Linked DNA regions of Homo sapiens: region 2 is linked to region 1. A link means that fine-mapping ties the variant in region 1 to the expression of a gene that starts in the linked region. Tissue or cell type: whole blood. Region 1 holds a variant in brackets; the other region holds the start of a gene. All regions are shown on one strand. Distances are from middle to middle. Region 1 overlaps MMD (monocyte to macrophage differentiation associated). Region 2 holds the start of MMD (monocyte to macrophage differentiation associated).

What was found.
Region 2: it holds the start of MMD, and the variant in region 1 is fine-mapped to the expression of MMD in whole blood (TOPMed, PIP above 0.99).

What each region holds. Positions count from the first base shown.
Region 1 is chr17:55,386,363-55,401,781 of GRCh38, forward strand. MMD (monocyte to macrophage differentiation associated) reads right to left here. Exons shown (of 7, transcript NM_012329.3): 6 at 15,107-15,176; 7 at 6,260-8,172. The coding sequence ends at 7,972. Among named protein-coding and RNA genes, the nearest start is that of MMD, 28 kb to the right of the region's middle. The variant T/C (reference allele first, on the strand shown) is at 7,535.
Region 2 is chr17:55,409,735-55,425,123 of GRCh38, forward strand. MMD (monocyte to macrophage differentiation associated) reads right to left here and starts at 12,101. Exons shown (of 7, transcript NM_012329.3): 1 at 11,936-12,101; 2 at 4,417-4,498; 3 at 1,523-1,683. The coding sequence starts at 11,961. RefSeq lists a silencer at 12,042-12,501.

The DNA of each region.
Region 1 (15,419 bases):
CTGGCTCACCCTTCACCTTCCCCCATGATTGTAAGTTTCCTGAGGGCTCCCCAGAAGCAGAAGCTCTTAGGCTTCCTGTACAGCCTGCAGAATGGTGAGCCAATTAAACCTCTTTTCCTTATAAATTACCCAGTCTCAGGTATTTCTTTATAGCAGTGCAAGAACTGAACAATACGCCATCTAAGATTTAGTCTGCTGCAGAAGAATTCATATGTATACAAGATTGTCTTTCTCACTCCTCAAAATAATAGATGAGTCAATAGGTATGTAAAACATAAAGAATGAACTGGGCCCTTAGTAGGGAATCAGTCAATATTAGCTATTATTATTATGTCCCCTTCCACACACCTCACCCTTTCCTGAAGCCTGCTCTTTCCTCTCCCTGGAATATGTCTTTCTTTGACCCTGTCTCTACCCACTGCCCCCTCACTTGACTCCCTGGCAATTCCTCATTCACCCTTTGAGTGTCAGCCATACTACTGCTTCTGTACAGAGGGTTTCTGACTGCCCTGGACAGGGCTAATCACTCCCTCCTCCAATAATAGCATCCAATACACAGGTGGAGATTATGTTGTGTTATAATTGTTCATTTGTCTCCACATCCTTCTCCCCTGAGGGCAGAGACTTACCTTATTGGACACTGTGTCCCCAGCCTCTAATACAAGTATGACACATGGCAGGACTGGGGGAATGATGGATGGACCTCAGGCATCCCAAACACAGTAAACAAGGAAGGAAAAAAATATCTCAGCCCACACAGGTGTTGCCCATTCATCATCCTTTGCCTGGGAGGATAGGTAAGCCCTGCTTCGAATGAACCCGGCATGCTTAAATGTTCAGCTAAAGCAAAGGGTGATTCATTCACACATGAGGGTTATTCATTTGAGGGCAGAGTTCACAAGTTTCTTTAAATAATGAGCTGCTTTGGTGCTCTCATAAGTAAGAGCCATCTTTCAAACAGGCAATTCGACCTCACCCTAGCAGATGCACAAATGAATAACACAAAGTACGGGACCCTTGTTGAAAAGACAGGTAAATCAGCATCACTTTCTACTTGGTCATGCACACTGTCACATTCACTGGCCACAGTCATCTATCTGTGTGATGCCAACAAACAGATTGACAAAAGCTCCCCAAAACGTCAAATCCAGATTAAGGAAGTTGGGGGGCAGAGAATCATCTAGACTGAGCAACAAGCAGGAATTTGGCCTTTTTGTTCCTATTTTTTTTTTCTGTTATAACATCCTCAGTCCCTAGACTGGTCCCTGGCACATAGGCAACACCCAATAAACATCTGTTGAATGAATGTGTGAATAAAGGACCCTACAACATCACTGGGAAAGAAACAAGGTGGAGAAGGCATTAAACGACTGTAGTTGGAAGGAATTCTTTAATAAGCCACTAGGAGCCCGTTGGTGTGAGTCCCCCAGGAGGCATGCTCAGGTTGGCGAGAGTGCACAGATGGTGACCAAATTGCTGTCCAAATTGACAGAGTGTGGGCTCAATGTATTGAAGGCCTTTTGTTTTGCTAAGCAAAGCATGCAGCTCCTATCTGGACATAAAGAACTGCCCCAGCCTCCTCCTTTTCTACCCTTTCTCTATGAATACTCATGTTCTTGTCTAAAGAAATGTTGAATATTTGGCCAGGCATGGTGGCTCACGCCTGTAATCTCAGCACTTTGGGAGCCAGAGACTGGCAGATCACCTGAGGTCAGGAGCTCAAGACCAGCCTGGACAACATAGTGAAACCCAGTTTCTACTAAAAATACAAAAATTAGCCAGGCATGGTAGCACACACCTGTAGTCCCAGCTACTCAGGAGACTGAGGCAAGAGAATCGCTTGAACCTGGGAGGCAGAGGTGGCAGTGAGCCGAGATTGCACCACTGCACTCCAGCCTGGGTGACAGGGCAAGACTCCGCAAAACAAAAACAAAAACAAAAACAAAACACAAACAAACAAAAAAAACTTGAATGTTTAAAGAACATTGTTTAAAATGACACAAAATTATTAGAAAGGCTGGGGTAACCACATGCCTCAGTTTAGCCTCGGCCATCATTTGATCCAGAACCATTTATAAGAGCTAGAAAATGCACAGAACAATTTTAAGAGTGGTACTGAACTGTTCTTCAGGTTGTTTGTGCATGAAAAATATCCCCAGGTGGGCTGTAATCATAATTTTAAAAGCTCAGCCATATGGGAAAGAAGCACTAGGATTATTTACCCAGTGTCAATCATATGTCAGACTGTATAAACTTGACACTTTCAACATATTATTTAATCCTTATGACCGCACTGCAAGAGAAGTGATATACCCCTTTTGCAGACAGGAACTGAAGCTCAAAAAGTAATACCAAACTTACCGAAGCTCACCCAGCCAATTTGTCACAGGCTGTCTGCTTCCACCCTGACTCAACACGCAGCTCATAGATGGGATTCAAAAAACACTTTAAGAGACTTCAAGAGAACCAAATCCTAATGATCAAAAAGTTTTCCTGACCTTTTCAGTGACTGACACAGTAGATCGGGTGTGTTAAGTGTGGCCTGGCACAGAACAGCAAAGGACCTGTGACCTCTCCCAGGAGATAGGGCAAGCCTCCAAAGCCTACTTTCCCAAGCCCCCCTTAAGCCTTGCTAGTCTATTTTGACTTCACAAGTCTGACTGCAGTGAAAGTCTGAGTGATAATGAGCTGTGTGGCAGAATGAGAAAGCGTTCTGTTGTGTTGAACAGGCCCCTGATGAGAATAGCTTAACTCCCCTTGCAGAGTGGCGAGAGTGCACAGTGGCACTGTTTCTTGGAAAAATAACACCACCAATCCATTGCAGGGATGTAGGTGGGAATGGCACAGAATGTAAGAACATATTGGCACTGTCTATTTAAAATAGCAAAAGCAGTAGAAAGACATAAATGCAGTAATTCTAACCTTGTTAAACTAAAAACATTCCTCGGGGCCCCTTGAGAAACTTTTATTTTGCTGCACAAGGAGGGAGGTGAACCAGCTTCTTCGAGGTCAGTTTCCTTTGGAGATTTTCCTATTCCACTCTCCATCTCACTGGCACGTGAGAAGAGTAGACATAAACTGAAGACACCAAGTATAAATGTAGAGATTTGGAAATGAGCTCTATTTTTAAAAGGTCTTCCTTTGGGTAAACCCATCAATAAACCTTTGCCCCAGGAATGGCTCTCTTGAAAATGAAAAAAGCCTCTAGGGTTCCTGGGTTCACTCGGGTTCTGCCACTTACCTTGGGCAAGGAAACTTATTCATCTGTATTTGTTTCCTCATCTGTAAAATGGGAATAAGAAAATGATTTATCTATAAGTTTTTTGTAAACATAAAATGAGATAATCCATGTAAACTAGCAGAGTACCTGATACATAAGAAGCAGTCAGTTGTTTATTATTATTACCTTTAAAACCCAGTCATAAATATGGACGAAGCTGTATGTTCACTGCAGCATTGTTTATATTAAAAAATCTAAAGCAATCTAAATATCCAAAATTAGGCAAATGATTAAGCAAAATAGGCTGCATATCCAGTTCTGAAAGATGATGAAATCATTGAAAATTCTTGCTATGAAATGATATAATAGTAATAATAGTTTTTTGTTTTTTTTTTTTTTGAGATGGAGTCTTGCTCCATTGCCCAGGCTGGAGTGCAGTGGTGTGATCTTGGCTCACAGCAACCTCCACCTCCCAGGTTCAAGCAATTCTCCTGCTTCAGCCTCCTGAGTAGCTGGGATTACAGGCATGCACCGCCAAGTCCAGCTAATTTTTTTTTGTATTTTTAGTAGAGACGGGGTTTCACCATGTTGGTCAGGCTTGTCTTGAACTCCTGACCTCGTGATCCGCCCGCCTTGGCCTCCCAAAGTGTTGGGATTACAGGCGTGAGCCACTGCGCCCGGCCAATATAATAGTATTTTTAAATGCTTATAATAAGTAGGAAAAAGTATATAAAATTACATATGTGGCATATTTACAGCTGTATAATAAAAATAGGGAAATAAAAAATTGCAAGTATATTAAAATATATTATGATAAATGAATGCTGGATAATTTTTAGCTTTCTCTATTTTCCAAAGGATTTTATATAGCTGTATGATTTTTAAAGTAAAAATATTCAAAATATTTTTAAAAATTTAAGTTGTTGCTTCTGGAGTATAATCTGCACTAAGACCCAATGATTGCACAATTGTTTTATTTTATTACTATATTCAGAAAAGAGGACCAGAGGGAAATACGTTAGGCCAAATACTTTTTTCTCTCAAAATAATTTTGTAAATTGTTATTTCTAGGAAAGCACCAATAAAAATGCTGGACATTTTCTTCTTTAGGACATATTTTCTAATATTTACACTCTATTTTCTCATCAACTTTCCTGTGGTTGCCACGAATGTTCTAGCTGACCCTTGTGGTCAAAAAAGCCTCTAAGGCCTAAGAAGCTAAAAGTCAGTTTCCAGCTAGTAAGAGTGCTTGTGATGGACAGGATAAACCTGCTAAAACCAAAGTCTGTCCTAAAAAATGCTTTATTCTCAGTCTTTCCCTTCCACAGCAACATTCTCCAACCTTCCCCCGACCCTGCCCCTTTCATTCAACAAAACTTCTTCACTCTTGTCATAAGCCAGTGCTATGCTAGAAGCTAGGAACAGAAGTGGATGAGACTCTGTCCCTGCCTGAAGGAGGTCAGTCCCAAGACCAGAGGTAAAGACAGTAAACACAATCACAATGCACCATGACAGGGGCCATGAAGGAATATCTGTGCCATGGGGTCAAAGGAGGGCACTACTACTCATGCCAGGGGGAACTTGGTCAATGGCACAAGGGAGATGGGTGGCACCTGATGAAGGCTTGGAATAAGCAACTATTTGCCAGGTAGGAAAGGGGCTGGAGTAAGGGCATTCCAGGCCAAGGAACAGCAGGTACAAAAACACAGCTGCAAAAGCACCATGAGGGCATGTGTGTTGTGGGGGAGGCTGTGAAAATCACTAGCAGGGCTGATGTCAAGTGGGGTTCAGCTGGGGAGAGGGCCGATCAGGCGGAGTCAGCATGTGAAGAGTCCATGCTAAAGCATCTGGCGTGAATCTTATAGGATAATAGTCAGTGGAAGTTTTGGAGCATCGAGACACATGCTCAGATTTTATTTTGGGAAGATAATGCTGGTACAGTGTGGAGGATGAGCTCATTTGAGGGGTGTAAGCAGTGGCAGGGATACAAATGAGGAGGTGGCTGCTGTAGTCTGATGAGTGCTAAGTAGGTCTTTTTAGGACCCTGCAGTGTGAAGAGAGGTGAGGAACCAGACCAGGGAGTTGTGAGAAAGGCAGGGGTGACAGTTCTGGCTGACCTGTTGCATCTGGGGGGTGCAAGAAATCAAGGATGCATGAATGAACAGATGGCTGTGGCCATGCCATTAACTAAGTTAGGAAATTTCAGAAAATAGGTTTGGTGGTAGGATGAGGAAAGATAATGAAATCAGTTTGGGACGGTTTGAGTCAATATGTCTGGGAGCATTTAGGCAGTTGACTAGAGAGAGGTCTAGTCCTTAGAAAATAGTTTAAGGCTGAAGATACTGACCAAGAAGCTGACAGCACAATAGTGGGGACACTCTAGAAATGGATGAGGTCACACTGGTGACCTAAAGGACAGAACTCTTGGGAATCATAACGCTTCAAGACACTCAATCTTCAAAATTAGATTTGACAGAGAGTTATCTGAGGGATTATTGAGGTTCTAAACCATGTGAATAGTGTTTTCTTTTCTGTGTCCATGCCTGATGAATTTTTAGTTCAAGTTTTTTTATTTGTTTCTGCTGACTCTAGAAATGCAGTGGTATAGTCAATGGGAGGCTTCGGAATCAGATAGAGCTGGTTGCTGTTCCAGCTCCCTGATTTAGGATGAAGCAGTTGAACTTCTCTGGCCCTGGTTTCCCACACTACAGAAGAGGTAGAATGGCATCTAACACTAGGAGAGTTGTTAAGATTTATAATCTGCTACTTGTCTGGTTGGTAACATAAAAGACTGTCACCTCAGTCCTATAGAATATTAAATATGCTAAACCAAAAGGCTTACCTTGGTAAGGATGCATCATCTAAAAAACTTGAAATCATTAGGTCCTGACTAGTGTATTTTAAACTGAAAATGTCTGTTGATTAATGTTTGAGCTGACTCTGGCATTTCAATTATTAAAAAGTAGACTAGAAAGTTCTAAGTGACAGGGTGTATTCATTTTTCTTCACAGTCATCTAATTTAGAGACAGTGGAACAAATCCAAGTAACAACTTTATTGTAGTATACAGCACAATTTTTACATACATATTAGTGGTTTTGACAGTGTTACTTTTGAGTAGACCTTAAATGAATCCACAAAGTTAATATATTAAAAATAAAATATACACAGTAAAACAACAGGCATCCAGATGTTCAGAATCATGCAGATAGGAGTGGTTTGGTTGGTGTTATCACTGGGTACCTTGCCTATTTAACTCGCCAGCAAATACCACTTCTTCTGTTTCTCATTCCCATATAATTCATCAAAATCAGAGAGTTCTAAACATATACAAAATAAACCTCTTTTAAAGCCACATCAGTAAAAAATTTCAATTAATAAGGTTATCATCAAACCAAGAATTCCACTGATCATTTGATCAGCCCATTACTAGGAAACAGGCAATATCAGCACCCGATCTAAAGGCAAGCCTATTTCATTTATTAAAACACCAACAAGAGAGATTAATCAACAAAGCAACTATTAACAACATGTTAATCTTAATATAAGACACTGAGAGAAAAGTAAAAATAATACATAAATATCACTCCACTGAGCCAGGATATAACTCATGGACTACAGATACATGAGTTTCTACCTGTCAAACAATGCTTTAAATATTTTTTCTAGGAAAAAAAAAAAAAAACACAATATATGAGAAGATGCAAAGGAAAGGCAGAAATGTGAATTTATGCATCTAGTTCCACAATTTAAAATAAATATCAAACTGACAATATAAAGCTAAGTGACAATGACTTAACCATTGGGCACCAAACAGGCAATACAACTGCTCACTGTAATACATAATGCTCTTCAGGAGTTTCCAGCAGATGGCCATCACAACAATACTGTCATAATACAGAAAAAACATTTATCCACTGTGGAAAGAGACCCTGAAGAGAATGTGGCAAAGGCATAGAGAAAAAGTTGGATCTTTTGAAAAAGTTAATGATATCAAAATACTTTTCCATCACTGGTAAACCAAGCTAGGTCAAGTATATGTCCCAAAGCAGCACTGAATTCAGAGTAAGAGGTTGGCAGAAAAGTTTGGAAAACTGCAGTTTTTAAAAATTGGCAATTTCTCCATGCTTAATAAAACTATCAGAAGAGGTATAATGTTTGTTCGTTTGTGGAATGTTGACTGCTTGCTGCAAAAATTTACAACATGAATGAGGACCTGCAGAGATGCATATCAATGAAATATTTTTTTAAAAATTTACAAAAAACTAAAGTTTCTATTTAAAAAAGAACCATGTTATGCCAAGATGAAACATGG[T/C]AAAAAGTAGTGTAAGTTCTGTCCATGATTCTTTACCTAGTGAATGGGAAAGTAATAGAAACAATTTTCTTCTTAAAAAGGAAGGTTTGTTATTGCACTGACTTTTACAACCTGACATAGTAATTTAGAAAAATCATGTAGTAAAATCTGTAAAATTAAAATATAAAAGTCTGGTTTGTAAACATCAGTTGGCCAAGTCTATTCAGAGTCCTTCATGATAGTGGAATGGAATGAATAATTAATTCACTACCTTATTTATTTGCTGTGAGGCAGAAAATTCCAGAACACAGCCTTTATACTTTCACAGTAATTATATTCAAAAGATATAAAGTCAGTGCAGTTATTTTTTTTCTTTCCCTGTGCAATGTTTAGCTCTCACCCCACTCCCAAGTGCCATAATTGAAATAATACTGGTTTGGAGAATTAGTACAGATTGGTCATAAATGCCGCATAAAGTCCGTAGGACTTCGGTAAAGGTATTTCCAAATGGCGTAGTAATGCACTGCAGCTGCCGTGGCCACAAACAGGTGCCAGATGGCGTGGGCAAATGGAATGATGCCATCACTCTTGAAGAACACAACTCCCAAGCAATAAATTAAGCCCCCACAGGCAAGTTCCTGAAGTCCATCGGTGTTGTTCTGTCAACAGAGAAAAAAAAATAAAAAGGGTTTGATGTTACTCTGCATGGCAAGCTACAGATAACTGTAATTCTCTCTAAGGCTCTTGATTTTCTAGACAATGAAGAAGCTGTGTGAACACAATCCTGATCTGTAAACATGAACCAAACATAAAAAAAGTCTCTTATACATCGACCTGGATTGCCCTTTGGACTGACACTCTTGAGTTGAGCAAGCAATCACATTACAGGTCCCAAATGAAAAAGCAGAACATTCTGCTCATTTACAGCATATTTAAGCAAACTGCAATCATAGCCAGACATGGGAGTTCATTTTAATAAAGTGCAATCCTCTGTTCTCATCTTCCCCTTTAAATGCTTCCTTCCCTACTAAGGCAGGCCCAAGCCACTCTATTTATAATTTACATCTCAGGCAGGGTATTTACTTCCCTTTGTCCTTCTCAAACACTGTTCTACACTGATTGCTGCTTTGAGACTTCCCCTGCTTATGTGAGCTTATAGATTCCTTAAGGCTGACACAGGAAAACCGTAACTAGAAGTGACCTCTGAAATCACAGATCACATAGTACAAGATATTTCCTAGCCTTCTAGATGTCTCCAGGCCTTTTTGTATTCGAGCCTGGCCATTGCTTAGCTTAGCAATAAGTTAATATTCTTGTGTGTCTTAGGGCAGAAGGGAGAATTTTTTAGGCTGTTCTTGGTTTTCAAAGACCAAGGCCCATCTACAAGATTAAAATGGCTTGTATGAATGAGGAGAGAGAATAGAGGCAATGCTTAGAAGCTGATGAAGAAACAAGTTAGTCCCCTGGATTTCTGAGGACTAGGAATAGAAAGGAGACAGGTTCTGCAGAGTGAATGGAAACCTAAGGCAGATCACGGCAGGGCCTTGGAAGGGGATAGGTGTGTGGGTGTCCTAGAGGCCTGGGCACTGGGCAGCAGCCTTGTGTGCCCCGCAAGAGTAAAGGGAAGCTCTAACTCAGGCACCTGATTAGAATGGGCCCCAAGGCCCTCGGCTAAAAGCAAGGCAACAATAGACCATCATGAGCTAAGGACCAGGTGTGAGGATCTAGGGCCAGCTGTGAGCTTCAGTCCTTTTTCAAAGTTCACAGAAGCCCCCATGTTTTGTGTGGGATCAAAAGATGGGGAAGGAGCCAATCCAAATGGACTGACATTGGATTTCTTCCTAACCTTGGTAAGAAAGGACTTCAGCTAGATTTATTTTTATTTAAAAAGTAAAAACAAAGACAAAATACCACACGTTATTAATTCCTCAAGGTTATACAGCAATGAATACACATTATACAAAAGTATTTGTGTGTGTATTAGGAGCCCTCTTCTAGGATAGGGGTAAGGCTCTCATCAGATTCGCAAAGGGGCACAGGGACTCCCAAATAGTAAGAGTCACTCATCTAACACAACCCCCTTATTGCAGAGGTGAGGAGACTAAGGCCAGAGCAGTGAAGTGGCCTGAACAAAATCACATGGCCAGTCACTGTTACAAAATATCCTTTTTTTTCCTTTCTGCCAAAACAAGCAAGACACCAAACCAAGTACGCAGGTTAGTTTTGACATGCATTCTGTTAACTAGTATCCTCAAGATACCACATTTACCTCAACTTTCAAAGACCTAGAACATAGTTAATTCTGTATCAAAACAGAATTTTTTTTTCATTATCATTATCATTATTGTAACTATGTGCCAGGCACTGTTTGAAGCACTTCATATATTTATTCATTTAATCTTCACAACGACCCTAAATTAGGTACTATTATCTCCATTATACAGATGAGAAAACTTTTTTATCCAGTCTGACAATCTCTGCCTTTTAGTTGGAGTGTTCAGTCCATTGTGATGTAATTGTTATTATATATGAGGTACCTAATTACTGATATGGTTGTATTGAAGCCTCCCGTCTTGCTCTCTGTTTTCTATTTGGTTTCATCCATCCTTTGTTTCCGTTTTCCAATTTTCCCACCTGCTTTAGACTAAATTGAATAACTTTGGGATTCCATTTTATCTTTTCTCTTGACTACTTAACTATAACATTTATTTTGCTTTTGTTGTTGTTGGTGGTGGTGGTGGTTATTCTTTTTTTTTTCTGAGATGGAGTCTTGTTCTGTTGCCCAGGCTGGAGTGCAGTGCATGATCTCAGCTCACTGCAAACTCCGCCTCCCAGGTTCAAGTGGATTCTCCTGCCTCAGCCTCCCAAGTAGATGGGATTACAGGCGTGTGCCACCACACCTGGCTAATTTTTGTATTTTTAGTAGAGATGGGGTTTCATCATGTCGGTCAGGCTGGTCTCGAACTCCTGACCTCGTGATCCACCCACCTCGGCCTCCCAAAGTGCTGGGATTACAGGCGTGAGCCACCGCGCCTGGCCAGTGGTGGTTATTCTACGGATTACAGTGTGCATCCTTAGCTCATCACAATGTACCTTTATTATTATACCCCCTATACAAGGTTAAGACCCTTAAAACAATGTGCTTCTATTTCTCCACCCCATCCATTGTTACCATGTACTTTACTTCTACATGTTAGAAACCCCCATGTTATCTTGTGAAGAAATTAAGAAATGAAAAACAGCCATGTATTTACATACAAATTCATCATTTCTAGCAATCCTGGTTTATTTATTTATTTATTTAGAGACAGCATCTTGCTCCGTTGCCCAGGCTGGAGTGCAGTGGCACGATCTTGGCTCACTGTAACCTCTGCCTCCCGTGTTCCAGTGATTCTCCTGCCTCAGCCTCCCAAGTAGCTGGGACTACAGGTGCCCACCACCACGCCCAGCTAATTTTTGTATTTTTAGTAGAGACGGGTTTTGCCATGTCGGCTAGGCTGGTCTCGAACTCCTGACCTCAAGTGATCTGCCTGCCTTGGCCTCCCTGGTTAAATTTTTGACATTAATATTACTAAACTGTGCTAACTTCAACTTGAAGTTGACAGGGTTTTTTTGTTTTTTCCTTTCCGCATTTTATTTATTTATTTATTTTATTTTATTTATTTTTGAGATGGAGTCTCATGTTGTTGCCTAGGCTGGAGTGCAGTGGCCCGACCTCAGCTCACTACAACCTCCTACAACCTCCACCTCTTGGGTTCAGGCGATTTTCCTGCCTCAGCCTCAGCCTCTCGAGTAGCTGGGATTACAGGAGTTCTGCCATCACATTCAGCTAATTTTTGTATTTTTAGTAGAGACAGGGTTTCACCATGTTGGCCAGGCTGGTCTTGAACTCCTGACTTCACATGATCCACCCGCCTCAGCCTCCAACGTGCTGGGATTACATGCGTGAGCCACAGCACCCGGACCCTTTCAGCATTTTAAATGTGCCATTACATTGTATTCCTGCTCCCATGAATTCTGATAAAATGTCAGTGGTCATCTTCTCTCCTTGCTCTTTTTTCTCTCTCTGGCTGATTTTAAGGTCTTGTCTTTGCCTTTGTTTTTTAGTAATTTGACTTTAATGTGTCTTAGTGTAGTTTTCTTTGTGTTTATACTGCTCAGGCCTCCTCGTGCTTTGTGGATCTCTAGGTTGATATTTTTCATCAAATTTGGAAAAGTTGTAACTATTATTTCTTCAAAAAAAAAAAAAAAAAAGAAAAGAAAAACTGTAAAACAGAAAACCCAAAACAAAAAACTGCCCCAATTTCTTTCTTCTTTTGTTCATTTTTAAATCACTCTTTTCTCTCATGCTTCAGTTTGTATAGTTTCTACAGACCTGGCTTCAAGTTCACTGAACTTTGCTTCTGCAATATCCAATCTGTTATTAAATCCCTCCAATAATTTTTTTTTCTTAAGACATCACAGTTTTCGGATCTAGAATCTCCATGTGGATTCTTCTTCATAGTCTCCAGGTATTTTCTGAGATTCCTCATCTGTTTTAAACTCCCTGTGTGTGAATCTCAGTATCTCTCCCGTCTTTTGATCTGTGTCTATTGATCTGTTTTCCCTTAGGTATGTGTCACTTTCCAGTTTCTTGCCCATCTGGTAATATTTATTATATATTTATTATTTATTTTATTACATTATTATTGATTTATTTCTGATAATATTTACTTATGGTACATGCTAAGTTGTTACAGTAAAGATTCTGTTGTATTCCTTTAAAAATTGTTGAGTTTTGTTCTGTTAGGCGGTTTATTTACTGGAGGATCAATTTTATCCTTTCAAGGTTTGTCTGGGCCTTGTTATGGCAGTTCTAGAGTAGCCCTCCCTCTAGGGATAGAGTAGCTCTACTCCTAAGCTGTGGCCTTGGCAGGGTCAGCTGAGTGCCTGGGATGTCCAGCACCATCTCTGAACTCTGCTTGGTTGGAACTTCAATGTCTTTCAGCACTGGGAACTGTCCGGAATTTCCATTTATCTTCCAGCCTTCTAAGAGTTATTTGCAACTGGAGCTTGCAGAGTTTTGGCCCGTACAACATTCAGCTTGATATCTGGACAACGACTCACGGAAACTGCTTCATGGATTTCTGAAGCATCCTCCCTGAGCGGCTTCCTCCTCTTCCATACCCTGCCCCACAAACTGCAGCCATGTCAGTAACCTGAACTGTAATTTCTGTTTCCTCCACCCAGGCTGCTGTTCTCTGGGCTTTACCTCCTTTTGTTGCTGTTTGGAAAGTGTCTCCAGGGAAACTACTGGGGTGAATTCAAAGCTCATTTTCTTGGTTTCTCTTCCTTCAAGGATCACAGTCCTGTACTGTTTGGGTTCAGAGCCAAAAAAACAGTTGCCTTTATTCTTTTTCTAGTTTTACAGTTCTTTATGGCAGAAGGGTAAGTCTGAGACCCATGATTCTGGCCAGAACCAAAGATTCGCATTTTCATTCATTCTGTTACTGTGTTAGTGGCTTTTGAGGTCCTTTGTGATCTGGACTCTTGTCTAGCTCTCCAGCTTTATTACAAGACTTGTGCTACCTGCATACCTGCCCCCACCATGCATATGTACATAACTCAAGCTGGTACATGTATTTTATGTTACAAACAATGAGCTATTTTCATTTCTCCAAAGATGCTGGTGCTTCCCCCTTCTCTGGGCTTCCTTCATGCTGTATTCTCTACCTGTAACACTTGCCTCACCCCTACCATCTCTCAGCTTCTACATGTTTTTCCAAATCAGCTGAAATATCACTTCCTCTGGTACTTCTGTCATGTTCGCATAGCAGCCTGAACTTTCCCCCATCAAATATTTTATCAAATTTCATGATCTCTTTTTCTTTAATAGGAACTGCATTTGCCTGCTTGACTCTAAGTTCTATGAAGGCAGTGTGGGGGATCATCCTGCTTGATTATCACAAACATTAGTCACCTGCTATTGTACCACTTATGGAAATGTCAATTTCAAATTTAGGCTAGTAAAATTACTGGATAAACCTGCTCTTATGATACCCAGAGGGAATTTGCTTGAAATTCTACTCTATTAAGCTGCACAAACCTTGCTTATATTGCTTGGGGTGTCCTGAAATGCCTTCTAACTATATGGCCTTCAAGGCTGATTTTCTCATTTCTGTCCTTTAACTCCTCCTCCTTACCATTCCCTGTTGCTTTTACCATCTATATGTATTTTGGGTGCTAGGTAATTATTAAAGCCATCATAAACCTCGTATCTCAAAGAAATATATTTTGTTATATTCTCATGAAGACATCCCCTGAAAAAACAGAACCAGATTTGAAACTTTTAAACCTTTTATAGGTGTTTTTGTGACCAGGAAAAAAACTATCACAGAATTATGTTCTTACAGCCAGGCGTGATGGCTTACGCATATAATCTCAGCACTTTGGGAGGCCGAGGCAGGTGGATCACCTGAGCTCAGGAGTTCAAGAACAGACTAGCCAACTTGGTGAAACCCCATCTCTACTAAAAATACAAAAAATTAGCCAAGGGTTGCAGCCCGCATCTGTAATCTCAGCTACTTAGGAGGCTGAGGTGGGAGAATCACTTGAACTCAGGAGGCGGAGGTTGCAGTGAGCCAAGATCGCTCTACTGCACTCCAGCTGGGCAACAGAGCAAGACTTTGTCTCAAAAAAAAGAAAAAAAAAAAAAGGTTCTTACAATGTGCCTATGAGATTAGGAGTGAAATCCTAAGTACAGTTCTTCTGAACAATGTAGGCTCAGAAGGGTTCAAACGAAACACCTTGGGACCTCCTTAGTTAATATAGTGCCTAGAGCCTAAGATACTGCAATATATAAGCTAAAGGGCTGGTAACCAGGTGGATGGAACCATGAAGTCGTAATAATATATTTTCATTTCAAAAAGACAGACACACACAGACTTCTCAACAGTAATTCAATTTGAAAGGGAATTCAAATATATACATGCAACTGCCTATTACAGGTAATGTTACACTTTACCCACGAAAATCCCCAAAAGATATTTTCAAGCAAAGTAAAAGAAAAAAAAAAGTGCTTGCCTTAGAAAACAGAACAAACAAACAAAAAAAGTGCTTGACTTACGACTTAAAAGCAAGGGAAAGGAAAAGTAAGAGTAAAGGGATTTGAAAAATACCTCTCTGAACCTATTCTGGTTCTGATTCAGGAAAGTACCATAAAGACAGAAACATACCTGAATTTATAGCTTTCCCAAACTGTACACGGTACCTAGTGCAAGCTTACGAGTTGCTGGCACACTTCATTATTTTTATTATTTTTTTGAGACAGGGTCTCGCTCTGTTCCTCAGGCTGTAGGGCATGAACACAGCTCACCACAGCCTCAACCTCCTGGGCTCAAGCAATCCTCCTGCCTCAGCCTCCCATGTAGCTGGGACCACAGGCACATGCCACCATGCCAAGCTAAACACTTCATTATTTATAAGTTCTTTTTCTTTTGAGCCTCTATTTAATGGACATAACTTTATAAAGAAAAGCTACATATCATATCCATAATCATGTTAAGTTCCAGCAGCTTAAAAGAAAATAACTAAAATTCTGAAGCCATGTCTTACCATTGATGTCACCACCAAGGCTGGAGAGAATCCCATTGTGAGATAGAAAAAGAGTTCAACCACCTTATATCTGCAGGAACAAAAATGCAGTTAATTTAACTTATAAATTTCTATAACACCTAACAATTTACATACCAGCCTTTCCTTTTTACTTTTGAGAAAGAAATGTAAACTCTTAACTATTCAAATAAAACTTTATTTCTCAGTAGGCAACCACTAGGCCTCTAACTAAAACACAGTAGCTGAGTAACAAGGAACTAGCATTTCTCTCAGGGTTGAAAAGGCATCAAATCCCACATGCCACCTAGAAAAT
Region 2 (15,389 bases), 23 kb after region 1:
CTCTGGCAGGGAGACCCAGAATACTGAAGTAGGTACCTACAACTTTTTATTGATCCAAAATCTAGACATCGAAGCCAAGTTTGCTGAAACAACCACAAGCACTAAATTGTGCCAAGAAGGTAATATAGTACTTTGCATCTAAACTGGCCTCTGGGCGCTGCGACAGTGTGTCCTAAGGAGCCAGGACAGGCACTTTTGTGGTTCTCTTGTGAGTGTGTCCCAAAGTGCCCTTGTGATTCAATGCTGTGGTTTTATTTTAAGCCCAGGAAACTGTCACCTTACAGGAAAAGGTAGCAGACTGCAAGCTATATGCAATATTGTAAAAGATATGGTGAAAAAAACTAGGACTTGGAGTCAGAGGTCTTGGAATAATCAGATTTTGCCAGTTTCACTGACTCAGACAAGTCAGGCCACTTCTCTGAGCCTCAGTTCCCCCAAATAAAAATGAAGTGATTTGAATTAGATGATTTCTAAAGATCCTCCCAGCTCTAAAACTCTAGGATTCTGCATGTGAGGAAACCAGTAATCATCTCATAAATCTCAAATCCTGCTTGTAAAAGGAGCATATATTTTAAATATCAGATTGTTTGAATAGTTTGAGTTTTTTTTGGACGTTCTTTAAAACCAAAAGGCATATTCGAGTATTTCTTTAAATTGCTCATAGTCTGCTCTGAAACTTCCTTTTTTGAAAAGAAGTTTTGCCCTTTAGGGTTGTGCAGAATCCATTTCACAAGCAAACCATTCCCACCTAAATGGTGTGGTGCTCCAAAATCAATCCTTCACTCAGAGGAGGAAAGCGTTTACGTTCTTCTCATTGGCAGGCCAAGAGCTATAGTATTGTTTTGAAAGTGCTTGACTATTAATAGCAAAATACGTGAACTCTGTTTGAATAATATACACAAGACTTAATTCTGAAAGCTAAACTTTGCAAAATGGTAAACGCAAACTATAAGTATACCTTCATACCTCACACACTCATAGGGTCTTTTGTAATTTTCAAGTTATTTTCAAGTACCTTATCTCATTCACCTATCACACTGACTGTGTGACTCAGGTATTATTATTCTCATTTTAGTGATACAGATACTGAGGCTCCACAAGGTCAAGTGATTTACCCAAAATTAAAGAGCAGGGCTGGGCCTCAAAGCCTGCCTGCTGACTCCAAGCTCAGTGTGCTTTGTCACTACCCCATAGCTGCTGCTCTCATCATATCCTTAGTGTGCTTGATAGTACTGGAAAATAGCTCTCAGGTTTTTAAGTGGTAAGTCCTGGGGAATCAGTTAGGTTTTGTTTGGGGTTACTGAGCAAAGGCCTACCTTCTTAGATGCCTGCTGGGGAGGAGTCCTAAAACTTCATCCAGTCCAAAGAACAAGTCCTGAATAATGGGATAGTATTCTAGTCTACAAGGCAGAAAAATGTCTACTCTTTGCCCTACTTGACTAAAGCATGCCAGCTTGGAAGGGTACCAAACACGTTGAGTCAACTATTTGGATCTGTTGAAACAGCATGTCATCCACTGTACCTTAAGTGGCTCTTTTTCCATGATACAATGTGAAATACTGTAGAAACGATGAAGAGGGCACAGAGTCCCATTCCATAAATCCATGCTGTTATCTTTTCCCAGCAGTCATCAGACAGCCGATGGAGGAGGGCACTGCCCACGATGGCCGGAACAATGAGGAACTGAGGGAAAGATAAAGAATGGTGAATGGAATATTCTGGCTTTTATGGAATTGAGTCTTTTACTAAAAATACAGAGCTTTACCAGGAACAATTTTAGTAAAATAATCTTAGAGCAAGTATTTGTCTCTCCTGGATAATCATAACGAGAGCCAGATGAAGTTAGCTGCTACACTGGAAAGCAGGTAATACCACTCAGGGTCCAGGAATTGTGCCAACCAGTGGGGATACAATTAAGCCATCAAGGATGCAACATCATTCAGCTGTTGCAAAACAGATGGTTTTTTTTTTTTATCCTAATTTCATTAAATAAGGACATGTTTCATTCTACTTTATAATCTGATTTAGAGTAATTACTTAAAATATTCAAATGCCAAGCAGGCAGGGTGTGGTAGCTCATGACTGTAATCCCAGCACTTTGGGAGGCTGAGGCAGGAGAATCGCTTGAGCCCTGGAGTTCCAGACCAGCCTGGGCAACACAGCAAGACTCTGTATCTACAAAAATTTAAAAAATTCGCCAGGCATGGTGGCAAACACCTGTAGTCCCAGCTATTTGGCAGGCTGAGGTGGGAAGACTGCTTGGGCCTGAAAGGTTGAGGCTACAGTGAGCCATGATTGTACCACTGAACTCCAACCTGGGAGGCAGAGTGAGACCCCATTTCAAAAAACAGCCAAGCATATACTCAGATTTTTCAGGGAGGTCCTCATTTTAAAATATCTGTCCTATTGCAATTGAAATCTCAATATTTCAGGACAGGATAATTGAACAAATCAAGTAATAGGTATTATAATGTACATAGCAACACACACATACAAAAAGTCAGTTGTTGAAGTTATATACCCTGATTTTCAGTTTGGATCTGTACATTCCACCAATTTGAGAGCTACTGCAGAATGTAAGAGTTTTGGGGTCACTTCATTTTTAACAGAGCCTTTTAAGTAAGCAAGAGCAAACCATTTCCAAGGCCCACCTATTCAAAAAATCTTGAGAATTTTAGAGAGATTTGCTTTCTGCATCATATTTCATAGTCCACATGGTCACAAACTTTAATGTCTAGTCATATGTGTATGACTATGACTAGTAAACATCTTACAATGACAGAAGCTCCCAGGAGAATAAACTACTTTATTAGATATTAGAGTAAGCATACTTGACAAAGAATACAAATGTTAGCAATTTGCTTATCTTTTTTCTCCCCAAACCTACATTTGTCACCTTGCAACAGACTATTAAATCCCCTAGATGAGACTGGCATGAGTTTTTCAGATGCTGAAGTTTTCGTTGGCCCAAGCAAAATTAGAACATTAAATACAATTGCATCTCCTCCGGGAAGCAATGGCCACTGTAGGGGTGAGAGTCTATGGCTCGCCTTCCTATTTCAGAGGATTTAAGTACATTTAAGTACAATAAAGTTTTTCATAAAACAAAATGTATTTCATTTAAAGGAATGCCCTTTATCTTGAGATCATGTCCTTACTACTTTTCATGTTAAAGTATCTTCTCTTCAATGAAATGATGACAATAGGGGTGTTTTGTCTGTGTTAGAAATATTACTGGTCCCTGAAATCCAAAAATTCAAGATACGGTTTAATAAGATTATATTTTCTGTTCTAAAAAAATTAATATGGGGGTTTTGTCAGGTCTCCCTTTACTTAAGTTTACACAAGTGTTCCTTAACCTGTGACACACTCAGAAGAGACAAGTTAAGGTTTATTCAGGTTCATCCGAGTAAATATTATTCCTAAAGGTAAGCTGTGTGTTTCAATATCTGAACCATTGTATTGTACCAACAGTGACTACCACAGTTAAACTAGCCTGTTCCAAACACTCATTGTTAAAGAAGCAAACTGGTCTTTTCTCTATTTCTTGTTTTCAGACTGTATCCCAGCCACTATTTTTCCCTCAATGTCACTAAATGCAAGGGAATAATGAAACCACAGGTAAAGTAAAAAATTTATAATGACATAAGAAATGCCATTAATGTCACATTAACAGGAAAACTGAAAATACATACATATTCACAAACACCCCCAACACAGAGACACACATATACACACACACATACACACAAACACACACACAAAGAAATGCACCGAAGTGTTAACAGTTTATTTCTGGTTAGTTTTGTTTTTCTTATATATTTTTCAGTATTTTTAAAGTTTCTTATAATAAGCATGTTTTGCTTTTACAAAGCAGAAAAAAATTAACAAAAAATTTAGGGATCACATCGGCTTTTTCTTCACCAATATGGAATAACATCTCCTCTGGGAAGCAATGGCCACTGTAGGAGTGGGAGGCTATGGCTCCCCTCCCCATTTCAGAGGATCACTTAATTTTAAAAAGCATCTTTTTCAACAAACTGTGAACTCTCTTTGCCAAATGAACACAGTTGATTGTCTTGAAAAGGCGATTCATTTCATTCTAGGGGTGACAGTCTTCATAAATAGGTGTCTTTGGTTTTTCTATAACTAGGGTACATACTATTATTATTCCTTTAAAGAATATCTTGTTGGAGAAAGCGAATCCAGGACAGAGCTGACTGTAGGTTAGAACACACAAAGCATTCTACATGCTTACATAGTTTCTGGTGACACGACCCAGAACTGATTTCCTGGTAGATAAGGTCACAGATGGGTAAATCCAACTAATTGTGCTGAGGTTACTAGAGATAACTACCCCTTCCTCCCACCAAAGCCCCGTGGAAAGGATGGCAATGGTGGAAAACTTGTACTCACTGCGTGTGTGTAACAGTTAGCAGCATGTTCATAGCAAGTTGGCTTGTAGCGGCCATTGGCTGGAGCTCGATGGTTCATGAACCTGTAAAAACAAAAAGAACACATGTAAGAAAAACTCAAAGTGTGTGAAGAACAATGAGGAAACCCACCAGTGGGTATGTGGTCTATTCTACGCAAAGAAGTGACTGGTGGAAATACCCAGTTGCGGTAATAAAGCCAAAGCCACTAAAGAGGAGTAAACTGAGCCAATAGCAATGATCCTTAAGCAAATACCCTAGTTTATTAGATTAAGCCTTCTTTCAGTTTATTCAAAAGAAAAACCTTCCATAACCAAAAGCAAACTTCTACAACCAAAAGCAAAGAGAAACCATATCCACCCCTTCAACTGGAACCCTCCTCCTCCATTCACACACACACACACACACACACACACACACACACACACACACGGTACAACTAGAAAAAAAAAACGAATTTTTCTAAATTTTATTGTCATTTAGTGAAAAGGGATACACTACATTTGAAAAACAAAGTTTCTATTTTCTCTCTTAAAATTTATAAAGCTTTATATAGGCACATCTTTAAACCCTACATCCCATGATTAACAGGCCTGTCCCACTAGTTTCCCTATATTGTATTACCAGACAGCTTAAATAAATGACACCTGGCTACCTCTAGGCAACTTAAAACCGGAGGTATGTTTTCACCTTTGTTCTTCCTGAAATCAAAAAGTCTGCTTCAAAAACCAAACACATGACTACTACCTGATTCTTTTGGCTATAAAATTCATATATACACACAAATGTGTGTACGTATCTAAATATCAAAATCTGTTACATATATAGACATATGCCCATATTCCGCACTTCCCTTTAGGCTAACTTTGTGACCATCAGTAGTACAGAGAAAAGCATGAATACCACAGAACCTAAAGAGAGGATAGCATTCTTCCATTTCAGTATGCTGAGTGAGGATGCCCTCCCCACCAAAAACCCAACCCATACCCACAACAGGTTTCATGAGGGACTCTGGATTAGTCTAATTAATCCTTTTTTTCTCAGGAGAGAAAAAAGCAGCTGTCTGAATAAAAGAAGAAAGAGGTAGATGCACAGAAACAGACGGACGTAAAAAAAAAAAAAAATTTCAACAGCATTCAGGTTGCAGAGGTCCACTGCACTCCTGTGCTTAAGAGTCTGTAAGACGTCAACAGGCTTTGCACAATAAATAATCCTTTTGCTCAAGCTAGTTTAAAGAAGTGTGAATGGGGGTTGGGGGTTGGTATTTTGTGCCACTAATGAGTTCTAACTACTCATTACCTTATTCATACACAAAATAAAAAATGGTACAGGGCTGAACCAAATGGTAGAACCAAGTTGCCAAAAATTGGCTAAAACGCATGACCAAGCCATTTTAGAGAGTGCCAAGTTTATTAATAAAAGACCAGCCAATACTCTTTCCCTGAGTTAGGAAGAGCCTGTTATCGTTAGATCAAATAAATAAAAATAAAGTGGCAGCCACTATTAACACAATACAGATAGTTCAGGTGGAAAATCCACTGGGGAATGAATTTGGGACAGTGAAGATATTTCACTTGGCCCACTGATGGGTTAAGATATTTAACTAGTGTACAAAATATGTACTTACTGAGTATAATCTACCAGATGGTTTGAAAACCAACTGTTAAAGAGAAATATACAGTTAGTAGCTTCAAAATTTATCCAAGCTATTCTCAAATATAGTTAACTATTATTAAGCATCATCTTTTCTCCCCTGATAATATTTTAAATAATTTTACTAATTTCCTAAGAGACAAGAGTGTTGCTATACAGCTCTTATTAGCAAAAAAGAAAATAATTACACTCTTGGGAAGAATGCTTTAAAAGTGTCCCAAGAATTGGAGGATATACCACATCATTGTCCTGAGACATAACAACAGAGCTATAAGTAGCATACCCTATTAGGAATTTTCAAGGCTAAAGAGCAAGGCCCCAAGATGGCTGTAGTTAGATGAAATTGAATGTGCTCTGTGTAGGGTGCAGTAAGTAGGATTTGTCTACCCACCACCAGGCTGCAGACTAAAATAGCAATTTATATCTCTGGCAGCCCAATCTAAAAATAGTCAAGCCATTACCCAGCAACAGGGATAGACTTTCACATTTTCTCCTAAAAACAAATAAACTGGATGGCCATGTTTGTGACAGCTTAGTCCCTGATCACCTGGAATAATTCACATTAAAAAATAAAAGTAGAAAGTTATACAGAAAAATATCCCACCCATGGTGACTTAAGGCACTCTATCCTGATGCACAGGGTAAGACACGGGCAATAGGGAAAGATAAGGGTAACTATCCTGGAAGCAATTCTCTAAATCTGGGGCTCAGTAGGATAGACAGCATAATTGTTCTGCTGGGAAAGTACAATACAATTTTCCCATTTCTCTCTAACCTGCCAGGGTGCAATCAAGCCTCCTCCACAGCCTCCTGAAGAAATCACTCCTAAAACCTAAATGGAAAAGCAGATGTAAAATGTAAATCAACTCCCACACTCTGGCCTTCATCTCTTCCCCGAAAAAAGAATGGGAAAGGTTCAAGTGCTGGTTATGGAAAACAGCATCCATTTATGGAAGACATCTCTATTTAAAGCGGAGTGGCCCTAATGGTTACTCAATGCTTGAGTAACCAACAAGCTCTAGAGGGTTTGAAGGAAGGTGATTCAGTCCTGGGAGTGGGAGCTGCACTTAATAAAGCTACTAGTTAGGCAGAGTTTTTTTACTCATTCCTTCACTTTCTCTTTCAAAACTCTCCTGCCTTCCCCCTTGCCCAACGTTCTTATCACCTCCTCCTTCCCCCATACCCCTCTCCCATGCCATGACAGAATTTCAAAACCATGGAGGGAAAGAACAGATCAGAGACCTGGGAACACTCCTTAGCACACTAACACACTTTAAATTCAACCTAAAGCACTGTGCCCACTGAGTAGATCTGCAACCCACCAGCAGATCTCAGAGGCTGATCTCAGTAGATCAAATCCCACAAGTGTTCCTCATTCTCCGAGTGCAAGTACCATCAACACTACCTTCAAAATATATTTCAAATAAGTCCACCTCATCACTTGAGGTCAGGAGTTCAAGACCAGCCTGGCCAACATAGAGAAACTCCATCTCTACAAAAATACAAAAATTAGCCTGGTGTGGTGGTGTGCACCTGTAATCCCAGCTCCGCGTCTCCTACCTTAAATAAAGACCTAACATCTCAGGTCTGTACAAATACAAAGTCTCTTAACTAGTCTTCCTGCTTGACCCAGTACAGACTCTCTTCTTTACATAGCAGCTACAGTTTTCCATTAGAAACAGATGAGGGGCTGGGCATGGTGGCTCACACCTGTAATCCCAGCACTTTTGGGGAGCTGAGGCGGGAGGTTGCTTGAGCCCAAGAGTTTAAGACCAGCCTAGGCGGTATAGTGAGATCCCATCTCTACACACAAAAAAAAATGTAAAAATTAGCCAGGTGTGGTAGTGTATGCCTGTAGCCCCAGCTACTTCTGACTGAGGTAGAAGGACTGCTTGAGCCTCGGAGGTCAAGGCTGCAACAGTGAGTTGTGATGGCACCACTGCACTCCAGTCTGGGTGACAGAACAAGACCCTGTCTCAAAAACAAACAACAACAAAAAACCCAGATCACATCACACACCCCAATCCCAGCTTAAAGTCTGCCTCTGGCTTCCCAAAGTGCTTACGATAGCACTGTAACACAGTGTTCAGAGGCCCACAAGCCCTGAGTGGTCTGGGCCTCACTACCCCTCCAGTCTCAGGGTGGCATCTTTCTCTCTCTCCATCCTCTGGCTATACCACCTCCTTTCTGCTCCTTAAACACATCAAGGTTGTGTCTGCCTCTGGGCATGTGTACTTGCTGTTTACTTCTGTCTAGGATATTCTCCAGAATGCTCAGCTCTCTTCTCATCCTTTCAGCTCAGCTCAGATGTCACCTCCTCAAGAGAGGTTTTCCAGACTATCCTAACTGAAGTATCATTTCAACCCTCCCCATCCAACCAGAGCCCTATGTCACAATTGGTAAGACTTTGATTTGTTTTAGCTTATTTTTTATTTCATCTTTTCCCACTGTAGTGTGAATTCCATGAAGGCTGTCTTGTTCACCTTTCCATTACCAAACTGAAGTACAATGCCCAGCTTATTGCTAGAGCTTAATAATTGTTGAATGAATAGAAAGACATTCCAGCTACTGCTGAACTATTTTGTCTTAACAAAGATATCCCATAGTCAATTAGTTTTACTGTGGACACAGCAGGTTCTGTAAGTAAGAGAAACAGGCAGCCTTGGAACCAAGAGAACCCCGAATCTCACACACACACAAAAACACTTAAAATCCAAGACAACGGATATTCCAAGGGCCCCTTCAACATCATTTATGTTGCAACGTATAAGTGGACCCCTCTTACTATTAGCTCCCCTTTATGACTGAGCATATTTGTTCAGGAAAAGTGTCTACTGTCAATAGTGCCAATCTTGACTTAATTATTAAATAAAGGAAGATGGCATATATAAGGAGACTACCCCATGCCTATGATTTAGTGCTTTAAGAACATGGGAAAAAAGACAATAGGTAGCCCTGTAAGACTTCTAATACTGTAGATTAAAATGCTTTCCCACATATCCAGTTTTGAAGCTAGCTGCATGATCATGAGGTTGGGGCTGAGGAAAAGGGCTTCTTTTTCCTTGGATTTTTGGTTGCAAGACTGTTGAAATGAGTACACACCAACAAGAAGATACAGTAGAGCTCTGTGGATCTTATGCCTATAAGATCTGTGTGCCCACACACAGATGTGGTGTGGGCAGAGAGTTAAGAGAGAGAAAGAGGTGAGCTAGCAGCATGACTGGTTGAGAGACAGACATGAAGTTGAACTCTTGGGTCTACCCCTTCCTAGCTGTGTGACTATGGGCAAGTTCCCTTTCATTCTCTAAACCTATTTACTCTTCTATTAAATGGGTATAACATTTATGTCTTCCAGAGTTATAGTTGAGGATGAGTAATATACAAGTGCCCAGCCAGTGCCTGGCATAGATAAATGGCACTCAATAAATATTAGCAGTTATTGCCATCAATCAGAGATGCTATGAAGGGGAGAGGATGACTTTGTGTTTGTCTATGTGTGTGTAGGTATCTTGGGGATACTCAAGTGTGAAACATAAAATGAGGAAGATAAAATATGCCTCTGTGTTCCAGTGAAATTTTTCACATCCTAAGTTTGTTAAGAAGCCATCATTGCATAAACCCTCCTCATGCTCCTCCATCCAGTCCCAATAAATCTATCAGGAGGGAGGAAGCATGTCTCCCTTCAAAGACAGTGTGTCTCTCCCTCCAGTTCCTTTGCAATTTACCTACCTGGGAATGCTCAGAAAGATATATCATGAACACAGCATTAAAAGATGCAGAATAGTACTACTCTCAGCATTTTAATGTGTGAACCACAAAAATCAGGACATTCTCATTACATTACTTTTTGTTTATAGGCTTTATTTCCAAGTTAAAATTGATGCTTAGAACTATGTTTCCAACCTAGCTTATGATAGAAAACCAAGAAATTATGAGATCACACAAATCTTCAAAGAAAATCAGGGTAGATCTAGATGTCATCAAGAAAGAAACTGTTAAATATCCATTGAGAAACACACAAGCCCCCAAGAAAATTACAGTCTATGCCACACCAAAAGAAAATACCTGTATTTTTAGTTTTTAAGTGAATAATAGCGCAAAAATCACATTACAACTGTGCTAATAAGGAATGGAGAGATCAGTGTCCAGCAAAAATAATTAAAAAGTCAGTTCAATAAGCTGAGAGGGTAGCATCCTAAATGAAGTTGTTGTTGTTGTTGTTTTAACAGTTTTAACGTTTGTGCAACAAATAATTGAACAGGGTTTGTTTGTTTTTTTTCTTTTTAGAGGATCCAAAGGTATAGGTAAGAATGACAAACTCTTAATCAAACAAGGAAGGGGCAATTTCACAGAATATTGCCACTGTTCTCTGAAAACAGGAAGAGCACAGACGTGTAGAGAAGTAAAACCAAATCAAACCGCATGCACAGGGCTTCACTGATCATGACTGGAGTGCATGTTACATTCTCTCTAAAAGCCCCTCCGGTCTTCATTTCTGACATCAGGTTCTAAAGTCAGAACACTACGGTTCCATTTTGCCCTTAGACACACCGGTATGAAGTTCCACTGGGGGAACAGTGCCAAGCATTCAACACCCTGACTGATAAGCAATATATTCAGAAGTCAATCCAAGTCTTCAAGCTGATCCCCTTCCTGGTGGCCCAGACCATGGCAACTCTTCTGTGCATTTGTTGCCTCCTTTACCCTTTGGGACTGGGGGAGGAATGAGATGGGTGAGAGGGCAGTGAGGGCATGGAGATTGGAAAGAAAAAAAAAATGTGTACTTTAAAATTCTGAAATAAAAGGTAGTGTCTAAAAACTCAACAACCTTCTTGGAAGATTTCATGCATTTCTTAAAATTTCCCCTGTCACTGCACCCCCAGCAAACATGCTGGTGGTGAAGGTCCGGGAATTCACACAAAGGGATGCAGTTACCATATGCCCTGGAGAGGTGAACTTTCACCCACTTAAACAGAAAAGAAAAGCCCGGAGTTCCTCTCAGAGTCATGGGCTAACCTCCATCCATTGTTAGACGGTGGAGCCCCAGAGGGGAGTAAGGCCACGGCGCCCCCCAGCCCGGCATTTCCACCAGCTCTACAGTGAATGAGCAGTCGGCCAGCCTTCCGGTGGCGCCTCCACGGTTCCTCCTCCTCGTTTCCTAACACCGGCGCCTCCACAGCAGGTCTCGCCACCCGAAAGCTAACATGCCCCTTCGCAGAGCCCAAAAATAGCACCGCCCTGGGACGTTCAGCTGGAGAACCAGCAAGGCCCCTACACGGCCAGGCAGGGCTAAGCTGGCGGAGCGTGCCTCAGTTTCCCTGTTGCTAGGGCCGTTCACAAAGCACCCAAAATGCCTAGCACCCCGCTTTACGACAAATCTCTCCGCAGGGCGCCACCCCGTTCCGCGCGCCCCGGGAGACCCCCACCCTGGAGGTAAAGGGATGGAGGCCAAAGCCAGGTCGGAGGACTCGGGGGCGGTGCCCGGGGCTGGGGTTCGGGTTCCCAGAGAGAGCCAGAGCCCAGCCTGTATGGGGGTCGGGAGGGTGAGCCCCAGGAGCAAAGGGATCCCCGGGAAGGAGGACAGGCTTGGAGTCCCGGGGCCGGGAATCCATCTGAGGTCCGCAGATCGCGAGGGGAGACCCGGGTGAGGCAGGAGCTCCCATCCTTGGAGGAAGGGGATCGCCCAGGGACAGCAGGGTGGGGAATCCCCAGGGAACTGATCCCTGGCCAAGGTGCGGGATCCACCCAGGATGAATCCAGGTGAGGAGCCGGGAGCCGTGCGCTTAACGGCGGGATTTGGGAACCCGCTTCTGACACGGGCAGCGGGACCGGGACGCCATCCCTCTCACCGCTGGAATCGATTCTTGAACCGCATTGATCCTCTGCTCCTCCTCGGGGGCCAGGAGCTCCGTCTCGTCAGCACCGGCGGCCGGGCGCGCGGCCCTCATGGGCTTGGGCTGCTCCGGAGGCCGCCTGCGTGTCCAGCGGAACCCTTCGGCCGGGTAGGGTCGGAGTGGGCCAGGCCGGGGGTCGGGACAGGGCTGGGGCCAGACCGGGCGGCTGGGGGCGGGAGGGAGGCCGCTTCAACGGCCCCAACACCTCCCGCCTCCCGCCTCCCGCCTCCCCGGCTCCTCCGCCCCGGGGCTCCTGCGCCCCGCCCCGGAGCCCGGCTCCGCCCCCGCCGGCTCTGTTCGCCTGCGTGCACCCGCGGTCGCCGGCGCGTCAGCGCGCCGGTCAGCCAATCGGCACCCCGAGCGGCGCGGCGGCTACGCTGCCATTCATTCCCGCCGGGCTCGGGCAGCGAGGCGGGGCCTCGCTGGGGAGGGGCGGGGCGAGGGGAAGGGGAGGAGCGCGGGAACGCGGCGCCCTTCTGTAAGAGACAAGTTGGAGAAGAGATCGAGGGAGGGAGAGAAGTGGTGAAGGAGGAGATGGACCAGGAAATCTTAAAAGCATTGTGAAGAAAATAGCAGCAAACAAGCAGCCCTACCTCATTCATTTTTTCTTCATCATTAATTTCTCCATCCCTCCTTTCATTTATTCCTTCATCATTTTGAGGGCCAGCTCCCGCGAGGCTATTGTGAGAGGATCCAGGGCAGAATGAAAAACCTGTCCTTGTCTGACCCTTGAGGGAGTTGAGATCTCTGAGCGTCTTCTAACTCTGAGATTCAGTGAGATCCACAAAAGGAGGAATCCTCTGCAAGGATCCTTTTATGTTATCCTCCAGTTTATTTTTTATTTTATTTTATTTTTATCCAGGCAGCTTTCAAATAAACGAGTTGACTTGAATCAGGGTCCTGTCGCTAAACCTAAACTCAGAGGGCTTCCTGGAAGAGAAGTTCAAATAAAAATGAATGAATGGGCCAGGTGCTGTGGTTCATGCCTGTAATCCCAGCACTTTGGGAAGCCAAGGTGGGCGGATCACCTGAGGTCAGGAGTTCGAGACCAGCCTGGCCAACTTGGTGAAACCTTGTCTCTACTAAAAATACAAAAATTAGCCGGGAGTGGTGGCGGGCTCCTGTAATCCCAGCTACTCGGGGGGCTGAGATGGGAGAATCACTTGAACTTGGGAGATAGAGGTTGCAGTGAGCCGAGATTGCACCACTGCATTCCAGCCTGGGTGACAGAGTGAGACTCTGTCTCTCTCTCTCTCTCTCACACACACACACATACACACAGAATGAATGAATGGGTGATTTGTCGAGCCTTTCCAGGATCACTGATGGAAGTTATATGTGTTCCCTTCCAGGTATCGTGTCCATACCCAGCCCCCAGCCTGCAGGCTAGAGACTCTGAAGTGGCATGAGGCCAGCCTGCTAGGAGTGCTCATTCGACCTACAGTAAAGCATTGGAAAGCCAGGGAATTCTGTCACCCATAATTCTAGTTCCCTTTCCTTGAACCTTCCAGAGAGGTGCTTTCCATGCTTCAATCTTCCCAAGAGCTCCTCCAGATGGGCATTATCCAACTTATTTTACAGATAAGGCTGAGGCTTATAGTGGTCAATAAACTTGCCAAAGGCAAAAGTAAGGCTCCTACCTACCTTTCGCTAACTTTAAAGACCCACCTCCTTTCAGTACGTCAGACTATCTCTCCCTGTTTTAAAGCAATACACTTCTCTAAAACAAAACAAACAAAACAAAACTTCATCTACCCGCACCCTCAACACTAAATCGGGAAAATGAACCTGGAATGAAAGTCTGCTTCTTATCAGCTATGTTGGGCCACTGGGCTAAAACATCAGTGCGGGAGGGGAAGGTAACAAAGGAGATAGCTAATAAAGATAGATGAAAAATAGCCATGTGTAATAACATAAGAAGGGTTAAAAAATAAAACAAGGAAGCTCAATTGTAACAGATGTACCACACTGTTGGGGGATTTTGATAACAGGAGAGGCTATGTATGTGTGGGAAATCCCTGTACTTTACTCTCAATTTTTGAGTGATCCTAAAACTTCTCTGGAAAAAAAAAAGTCTTTTTTTTTTTTTTTTTAAAGGGCCAGGCACAGTGGTTTGCACCTGTAATCCCAACACTTCGGGAGGTCTAGGTGGGAGGATCGCTTGAAGCCTGGAGATTGAAACTAGCCTGAGCACCAAAGCAAGAGTTCATCTCTAACAACAACAACAACAAAATTAGCCAGGTGTTGTGGTAGGCACCTGTAGTCCCAGCTACTTGGGAGGTTGAGATGGGAGGATCACTTGAACCTGGGCCACAGAGTGAGATCCTGTCAAAAAAAAAAAAAAAAGAAGGAAGGAAGGAAAGAAAGGCAGTGCTGATATATGTTACAACATGGATGAACCTTGGAAACACTATGTTAAATGAAAGAAACCAGTCACAAAGAACTGCAGATTGTATGATTCCATTCATACAAAATTCCATTTATATGTCCCAGAACAGGCAAATCTATAAAGACAGAAAGTAGATTAGTGGTTGCCTAGGGCAGGGGAATGGGAGGGGATTGAGAAGTGATGGCTAAGCGGTACAATGGTTCTTTTGGGGTCTAATGAAAATTTTCTCAAATTGTGATAATGGACGTACAATTCTGTGAATATATAAAAGCCACTGAACTCTACACTTTAAGTGGGTAAATTGTATGGCATAGGAATTCTATCTTAATAAAGTTGTTAAAAGATTTTGAAAAATTTTAGTTTCTGTAAAAAGGTTGAAATAGAAATATCTGGAGCACAGAGATCGTCTTATTCATGTTTGTATTTCTTGGATACTTTTAACAGAAACTGACACACAGTAGGTGCTCAATAAAGTTATTCATATGAACTTAATTAAAAAATAACAAAACGACAACAACACAATGAGCCAACAGATGCCAGATCACATCTTATTAGTGATGTAGGAATGTGCAGAGATAAGAAGTGAACTGAGTATGATGAGCATAATGAGGAAGAGGTGCCAGAGAGAAGGAAGTCTGCAGATGGATTTTGATTGAGATGCTGGATGGTATCACTTAGCACAAACTTTCCCACTGGGAGAACAGCTTGAACAAGGAAGAGAAGTGGTTGGTATAAGGAAAACTTTTGAGAGGCTACCTAAGTTTGGAAACATCAGTGAGAATGATACTTACCCAAGGAAAAAGAAATGAATGAGATAAAAAGTCAGATTAAATCAGATGAAATAAAACACTTTGACCTACAGTGGTCTCTTCCACAGAAATGCTGGACTATCAACTAAAGGTGACTTAAACAAATATGGTCGCAATTTTAAATTAACCTCATCTTTCCTGAAACCTACCCCCCCAAGGTAAAAGCAAGCCACAAAAGATAAAAAGAAAACACAAGAAACAGGTTTAAATG